Linked DNA regions of Homo sapiens: region 1 is linked to region 2. The links come from fine-mapping of genetic effects on gene expression. A gene starts in region 2. The other region holds a variant in brackets. All regions are shown on one strand. Distances are between the middles of the regions. Region 1 overlaps ELF5 (E74 like ETS transcription factor 5). Region 2 holds the start of CAT (catalase).

Region 1 (4,401 bases), 45 kb before region 2:
CAATGTTTTTCCTCCCACTTCTTGCCATTTTGGCATTTCAGTGAACGCTTGTTGTCTATTCACACTTAATAATTCACCTTTGTTTATGACTCCATTTGTTTTCTCTTCTCCTAAAAGATTAAATCAAAACAACAGATCGATCTGGGGGTAGTAATAGACATATCTCATAAGGGTGGGGAAGGTTGAGTGAGCATCTGACAATAGCAAATGCTCAACAAATCTTAGCTAATAATGGTTCATTAAATGTCTATTGAACACCTGCTGTGAAAGACATGATAAAGTAGTAGTTATGAACATTAGCTTTGCAATGAGAACTCTCTGGTTCCACCATCTGGAAAAGATTCTTAAGCTCTCTGGACTTCCAATCCCTCCTCAATAAAATGAAAATCATAATAGTATCACCCAGGGTTGTTATAAGTTTGAAATGAGATACTCTATGTGAAGCCCTTACCAAGCACTTGGCATTTAGTAAGTGCTCCGTAAATATCAGCTGATAGTGGAGGAGAAAAAGAGATGGATCTTTCCAGTAAGGTAGGCCCAGTGTTGTGATACCAAGGAACTCACAGGTGCTCTCTATGGGGCTCATAAGGGGTCTAACCCAGAGGGTCAGTTCAGAGAAGGCTTCCTGAAGAGGTCTTGTGAGAGGTCCGCTGGGTAGAAGTGGAGAGTGGGGAGTCTGTGCAAAGGTCCTGAGGCAGAAGAAAGCCTTGCCTCAATGGAACCATTTGACCTAAGGGAAGGGAAAAAGTTGGGAAGCAGAAAGAGATAAGACTGGAGATCTGGATGGGGGTCAGTCTGTGAAAGGCCTATCTAATGTGCAGCCTTCATCCTGGAAGAAATGGGGAACCACTGCAGGATGTTCAGCTGGCGAGGTGACATGACCCAGTGGCACTGAGAGAGGTCACCCTAAGCAGCAGTGTGGGGCACAGGATGTCATTCCTGCCCTTCCTTCATTCAGCAGTGACAGTGTACATACTAGACGATGCAGCAGGGATAGTTGTACAGTATAATATAGTATAGTATAGTATAGTATAGTATAGTATAGTATAGTATAGTTAGTATAGTGTAGCACAGTACAGTATAGTTAGTATACTACAGTACAGTGCAGTATAGTTAGTATAGTATAGTGCAGTATAGTTAGTATAGTATAGTACAGTAGAGTATAGTTAGTGCAGTCTAGTTCATATAGTACAGTATGTACAGTAGAATACAATATATGGTACAGTATAGTTAGTATAGTATAGTACAGTTATTACAGTATAGTGTGGTATGATTAGTATAGTATGCTACAGTATAATACAATATAGTGTAGTTGGTACAGTGCAGTATAGTTAGTATAATACAGTACAGTATAGTATAGCACAGTACAGTATAGTTAGTATAGTATACTATAGTATAATACAATATAGTATAGTTGGTACAGTGCAGTATAGTTAGTATAATACAGTACAGTATAGTATAGCACAGTACAGTATAGTTAGTATAGTATACTACAGTATAATACAATATAGTTAGTACAGTACAATACAGTTAATATAGTATAGTACAGTATAGTGTGGTACAGTAAATATAGTATACTACAGTGTAATGCAATATAGTATAGTTGGTACAGTACAGTACAGTTAGTATAGTATAGTACACTGTAGTATGGTGTTAGTACAGTACAGTAATAGAATAGTTAGTATAGTGCAGTACAGAACAGTGCAGTATGATATAGTATAGTATAGTTGTCATGGTATACTACAGTACAGTCAGTATAGTTAGTATGGTATAGTGCAGTATAATGTAGTTGGTGTAGTATAGTATAGTACAGTATAGCATAGTTAATATAGCATGGTACAGTACAGTATAGTTGGTATAGTATGCTACAGTACAGTATAGTTAGTACAGCATAGTATGTACAGCACAGGATAGTTAGTATAATATAGTACAGTATGGTGTGGTATAGTACAGTATAGTTAGTATAGTACAGTATGGTGTGGTATAGTACAATATAGTTAGCATAGTACAGTATGGAGTGGTATAGAACAGTATAGTTAGTATAGTGTGGTGCAGTACAGTTACTATAGCATAGCACAGTGGCTGCTCGATGATACTGAGCACCTACTATATGCCCGGCAGTGTGCTAGGTGCTGCAGGGTTATGTTGGGAAACACAAATCCCTGCCCCCTCGTGTGCACAGACAGACAGTGAACTTCATGAATAAATACACCATAGAATATGCTCGAATATTCTATGTAAAATGC[G/A]GAGCAGTGGGGAGGATGTGCAGACCCAACTTGAGTGGTCAGAGGAGACCTCACTGGAAGGTGATTTTGAAACAGGATTGAGATGAGGGCGTGCACCACAAGTATCCAAGGGAACAACGTGCAGGACAAGTGGAAGAGCAACTGCGAAGTCCCTGATGTGGAATGTGCCTGCACGTTTCTGGAGAGCCTGAAGCCAGGGTGGCTGGGGCAAAGCAAGCAGGGGGCTAAGAGAAGCGGTGGAGACGAGTGTGAGCTGGAGGGGCAGATCTGGTGCCACCATTTTAAAAACTCATATACTACTCTGGCAATGCTTGTCCTGGTGTCTCAGGTTGTGACTCACAGCCTGAGTTATTAGTTAAATCAGCACGGAGTTAACGTCTTGCTTTCTACCCTTCATAAGCTCTAGTCTCTTTGCTTCTACTTGTGTCTCTTCCAGTCTGTTCTCCACACAGGAGCAAGAGAGATCTTCTTAAATTGAGGATCTTTGCTCTACACTTTGATATAAAGTCCCAAGTCCTTACCATGGCCTCCTAGGAAGGCCCTGCACGGACCTCGATCAAAACCAGATTTATTTATTCTCATCAGGGTGGGGTGAGATTGAATACAAGTGCTCCTCAAAGGCACATCTTAAAGCATCTTGACACCTGCCACCTAGTAATCACCCCCAAAGTGCCTAATGTGGTGTCTTCTACTACAAAGGCATTCAATTAGTATTTGCTCATTTGGGTATGACTTGAGGTCTGAATGTGGCCTCTATATCCCTTTCCACTGCTATAAATTATTCTATTTCAGATGCTGATTCCAACTGCTTGAAAACAAGTGGCATCAAAAGTCAAGACTGTCACAGTCATAGTAGAACAAGTAAGTGCAGGATGCCAGTTTTCATTCTAATTTCTTAAAACCATTCCTCAGACAAAGTCATCTACTTTAATAAGCTTTGAAACTAAATGTTTGAGTTGGACCAGTTACTCCCCAAGGAAGGTAGTAAAGAAATCAGTGATTGCTTTTATACGTATTATCAAAGTCAGATTGATTTCTTCTCATACGAGTGGGTGAGATTAAGCATCTGACAATAGCAAACGCTAAACAAATCATAGCTAATAATTATCCATTAAATGTCTATTGAACACCTACTATGAAAGACATGATCGTAGTTGTGAACATTAGCTTTGGAATGAAAACCCCCTGGGTTCAAGTTCTGGCTCCACCATCTGGCGCCAGATCCAATCCTGGGTCCACTGTGGCTTCATCTCAGAGGAGGATAACAAAGAAAACACCGGGAATTGGCAATCCTATTAGCTTCCCCAGCACTAAGAGATCGGCCCAGAGCAGTGTCAAGCTTGTAATTTCACAAATGTGTGTGTAGAAAACAATTGCTATGTGCTGGGCATAATTCTAACCACTTGGTATGTATTAAATCATTAAATCCTCTAACCTGTCCTAGGAGACAGGTACTCTTTATTATCCCATTTTATAGATGAAGCAACCCTAAAAGTTTATGGTTATAAAGGTAGGAAGAGGTGAATTCAGGACCCAGACTCAGATAATGGGACTCCAGAGCTGGTCTTAACCACCATATCATAGAATAAGAGAAATACCAGCCTTTCATGAAAAACGAATTTGCAGGATCAGTCCACCCAGACAGTTGTGGCTGTGGAATCAGTACAACCATGCTGCCTGTCAGAAAGAAGAATGAAAAGATCATTTGACTGTCATTTCACTCATTCCATAAAAGTTAAACTGTAGTTCCATAGAACATCTGTGAGTCACAGTGTTGCCAGTCATGTAAATTGGGTGTCTCTGAATGTGTGTTTCACAATTGCTTCGATGGGAGACACAGACATGTCACAGCTCAGTAAGTTTCCAGGTAGAGCAATCAGTCATAACAATGGGAAATATTCCACAAAGCAGCAATTCTCATGACCTAGTGAGAAATTGTACATCTCTTCTCTTAAAATTAAAAAAACAAGCTGGGCACGGTGGCTCACACCTGTAATCCCAGCACTTTGGGAAGCTGAGGCGGGTACAACACCTGAGGTCAGGAGTTCGAGGCCAGCCTGGTCAACATGGCGAAACCCCATCTCTACTAAAAATACAAAAAATTAGCCAGGCATGATGGTAGGCACCTATAATCCCAGCTACTTGGGAGGCTGAG
Region 2 (4,401 bases):
AAAATACAAAAATTAGCTGGGTGTGGTGGTGGACACCTGTAATCCCAGCTACTCGGGAGGCTGAGGCAGGAGAATTGCTTGAATCCGGGAGGCGGAGTTTGCAGTGAGTGGAGATCATACCACTGCACTCCAGCCTGGGCAACAGAGCAAGACTCCGTCTCAAAAAAAAAAAAAGAAAAGAAAAGAAAAAGAAAAAGAAAATATTTTGTTTTGTAAAAATCTCACTACTTTGTCCACACTTTTCTCAATTCACCGAGTATTCATGAAAACTTCAGTGTGAACCAGGATTTGCACCCACTGGGTAAGGAAAGAGTCTTGGGTCCAAGAAGCTGAATTCTAACCTTGTCTCTGCCACTAAGTAGTGGCACATCCTTTACTAAGACTCTACCTCTCTCTGGTTTACTTTAAGAGCTCATGAACCAACCTAATGGTATATAACAAAGAACAGGGCCAAGAGGGGAGATTTTCCAGGCCCTTGGAGGAGAATGGCAGCCTTTTCCCAAACAGGGAACCATTAAAGCAATCCATGAGCACTTAGCATTAATACCCCAGTTCACGAACCTGAGTTTTGAGCAAGAGCACTAGGCAGAATAGGGAAAACAGGGCTGCAGTCCTCTGTCTACCATTAACCAGCAGCCAGGGAACAGGGCAAGACCTTTAGACTCCCTGGGCCAATCTGCCAACAGTAGACTCAGACCAGATGTGGTCTCATCTAATCCAACCTCCTCATAGATGCCCTCTGAGACTCTGCAGCCGTGGGCACAGGCCAGGAATGCCTCCCCCACCACCAAGTTAAAATCCTACTCATTTAAAAAAATTCCTGTTCAAATGTCACCTGCTTTGTCCGGCCCACCTGGTCACTCCCTCTACATTCTACAGATAACCTCTATTAGAGCCCTCACCACGCTGGAGTGTAATCATCTGTTTATGTGTCTCGTCTCCCAGACTAGACTCTCAGCTTCTCAAGGGTGTTGTTCTTGCCGCACTGGAATTTGTACACCTTGCCCCGAACAGTGCCTAGCACCTACAGGTGCTCAAAGAATAGAATAAACGCATTAATCAATCCCTAATGTCACCCCCCAGCTCTAAAATGCTAGGCTTGACATTTTGAAGTGCAAATGAGACAATGAATGTAAAAGTTCTTTTATTTAGTCGTTTAATAATGTGCATAGTACGTACCAGTCACTGTGACTGGTGCTGGAGACCTCAAGATTGTAAAACACAATCCCTGCCCTGCTGGGACCCCACAACTATGAAAGCGTGTAAACAGTATTTCAAGAAGGGCACCATTAGAGCCTGGTTCCACTTCTCCCCTCACTGACTTCCTTGCAGCTGCAGCTCTCTGCCTCTTTCCCCATGAGCCCTCAATCTGTCCTCAAGCTGCGACCTCTGTCCCAGTTGGCAAAAGTGCAAAATTCTGAAGCAACCACCCGAGCCTGTCGCGGACAACAAAGCCTGCAGTCCCGCGCCCCACTACCCGGACCCCCCTCCCCTGCTTCGGCGAATGTAAAAGTCCGTCTGCACCGAAGGGGATCCCCCCTGCCCAGTGAGCCGCGGTACAGTCCCTCCAAGCGCCGCCCCGGGGGAAGCCGGGCCTTTACTTGCCGACGCCCCCGCTTTCTAAACGGACCTTCGGGCCCGCTCGGGGAGCACAGAGTGTACCTGCGCGGCCCGCTGCTCCTTCCAGTGCTGCATCTGGTCGCTGGCGGGATCCCGGCTGTCAGCCATAGCGTGCGGTTTGCTGTGCAGAACACTGCAGGAGGCCTCGGCTCGTGGGTCTCCACCCTCAGCAGGCAAATCTGCCTGTTGCCCCGAGTCCGTGGCGACTTCAGGCTCAGCCAATCAGCACCACCCCCTCGTCCCGCCCCCTCGGGAGGACTGCCTTCTGATTGGCTGCTCGGCGCTAGGCAGGCCAAGATTGGAAGCCCAATGGGCTCGGAGCAGGGCTCTCCGAAGGAGGCCTGAAGACCGGAGATACCCAGGAGGGTGCGGAAAGGAAGGGTCCCGCTCTGGCCCAGCAATTGGAGAGCCTCGCCCCGCCGGCCCGGGGTGCCCGGGATAGCCGAACCCAGGGCGGGGCTCCCGGTTATCAGCATCCTTCAGGCCGCCCTGGGACGCGGCCGTTGGTGGCCTGCCAGTTTTGCAGACGGAATACTTAGACCCTGCTGGGTGGGGCCTTGCGCTCCATAGCTATGCTTTCTCAGCTCTTAAAAAGTCAGCAATCCTGGGTTAAATTACTCTGTACAAAATTAAATTTTGCCATACGCTAATGTAAGTATTATTTGCAACCAAAGGATGGATGGATGCTTTTCTTTTTCTTTCTTAGCTCTTCTTAACTTATTCGTGGATTATCACTTACTAGACTAGTATACTAATTATTTAATATAAAAACACTCTGAAACGTTTATCTCCGTACAGATGGGTGTTGATTTCCTCCTTTACCAGAGAAAAACAACTTAACTTAGATGGGAAAAATGTATTCCCTTGTGATGGGAAAAATGTATTCAACTCTGGTACACTGCCAAATTGGCTTCTTTAAACACTGGAGAAATCTGCTTCCCCAAATTTTACCCCCAGGTAAGCAGGAATTTTGAAAAGCTTTGTGTCTTTAAAAAGCTATGTTGAAGAGTAAAATACTTAGTAATATATAGTACAATATTTAGTAAGTTACTGACTAGTTTGTCATTGTAATCAAAGAGTTTGAATGATTTCTACACCTCCTCAGGTGCTAGGATTTATCTTTAAGCACCTTAATATATATACATAGTATATACCATCATCTTCAAATTAAAAGTTATCAGCTTTTAATTTTTTCCAGTACAACTACATATAATGGGTGGATATATAATAGTGGAAACTTCACATGTTGTTCTTGATCTTACAAAAGTATGATAAGAATCTTGGGCATAAAAGTGGAACTTTAGCAGTTCATTGGAAAAGAAAGCCACAAATTGATCTTTAGCACCCTATACTTTTCCTATATTAAAAACAATTATAAAGATGCTGTTGGCTGTGTAATTTGGTGTCTTTTTCTACCTGCCCGATCCATACTGCCAAGACTGTAAACTCCATGTGGGTCAGGATCCTCCCATCCATAATTTATTGAGCACTTACTATATACCAGGGACTATTCTCAGCTTTTTGTATATTTGCTTAGTTAACCCTCCCAACAACCCTATGAGTTAGATACTAATATTATCTTCATTTTACAGATTAGGAAACAGAGGTATAGGGAGGTTAAATAACTTGCCCAAAGTTACACAGCTATTAAGGGATAGTCAGGATTCTAGCTTCAGCTGTTCATCTCCAAAGTCCACAGTTTGTTGAATAAATAAATGTTGAAATAATCGAGCAAATCATCTTCTTAACTAACCAACACAAATATCAACAAAATAAATAAGAGACCTGGAGTCATTTCTTAACCTTTATTCATTATATAAAAAAAAGCATGTTTTTTTTTCCTTTGTTTTTGTTACTATGGATTTGAATTCCTAAAGAATTATTTCTAGAGAAAGAAATGGAGAAACAAGACTGGTTTCTGATCTTGTCATATCTTGTATTTTAAAATAAAGGGCAGGCTTACAAGTAATGACAATAAATTTATAATGTTACATAGGAGGCTGGGTGCGGGGGCTCACGCCTGTAATCCCAGCACCTTGGGAGGCCGAGGCAGGCGGATCACTTGTGGCCAGAAGTTCGAGACCAGTCTGGCCAACATGGTAAAACCCCACCTCTGCTAAAAATACAAAAATTAGCTGGGCGTGGTGGCACACGCCTGTAGTCTCAGCTACTCAGGTGGCTGAGGCGAGAGAATCACTTGAACCCAAGAGGCGGAGGTTGCAGTGAGCCAAGATTGTGCCACTGCACTCCAGCCTGGGTGACAGAGTGAGGCTTCATCTCAAAAAAATTAAAAATTAAAAAAAGTCACATATTAGGTGGAAGTTCTATCGACTATAATTACAGCTTAAATGAAAACACTTCTTAAAATCAGCCCTAGTTAAAAAATACTTGAAACCAAACCAATACAATTACCTAAAGGTAATTGCAAGTGATTGGTTAGGTAAACAAATTGGGTTCTAGGTTTTAATATTTTAGTCATATGAATTCATGGGTATTTTTATTGATATAAATAAAAATGTTATTTTAAAAATGCTGTTCTCTGAAGTCAATTTTCAGAACTCAATGAAAATAAAATATACTGGCACAAGACATACTGTTATTAATCCTGGTATCAACAAATTTGAAACCAAGCTTGCAAAGTAGACCATGTAACAAATGTTCAAGAAAAACATTTGAGTACTCAGCTAGGAATCTTTATAGACAAATTTTATTTCATCAGTATTGCAAGAAAAGAATGGAGAGAATGAACATCATGTGTTGTTGGATGACAGGCATACAAGA

Evidence for each region. PIP is the estimated chance that this variant, and not a neighbour inherited with it, causes the effect.
Region 1: its variant is the best candidate, but not a certain one, in a credible set for the expression of CAT in lung (TOPMed, PIP 0.72).

The regions. Positions count from the first base shown.
Region 1 is chr11:34,481,137-34,485,537 of GRCh38, reverse strand. ELF5 (E74 like ETS transcription factor 5) reads left to right here. Exons shown (of 7, transcript NM_001422.4): 5 at 3,039-3,107. Among named protein-coding and RNA genes, the nearest start is that of ELF5, 30 kb to the left of the region's middle. The variant G/A (reference allele first, on the strand shown) is at 2,247.
Region 2 is chr11:34,436,341-34,440,741 of GRCh38, reverse strand. CAT (catalase) reads right to left here and starts at 1,808. Exons shown (of 13, transcript NM_001752.4): 1 at 1,663-1,808. The coding sequence starts at 1,728. RefSeq lists enhancers at 1,476-1,775, 1,946-1,995.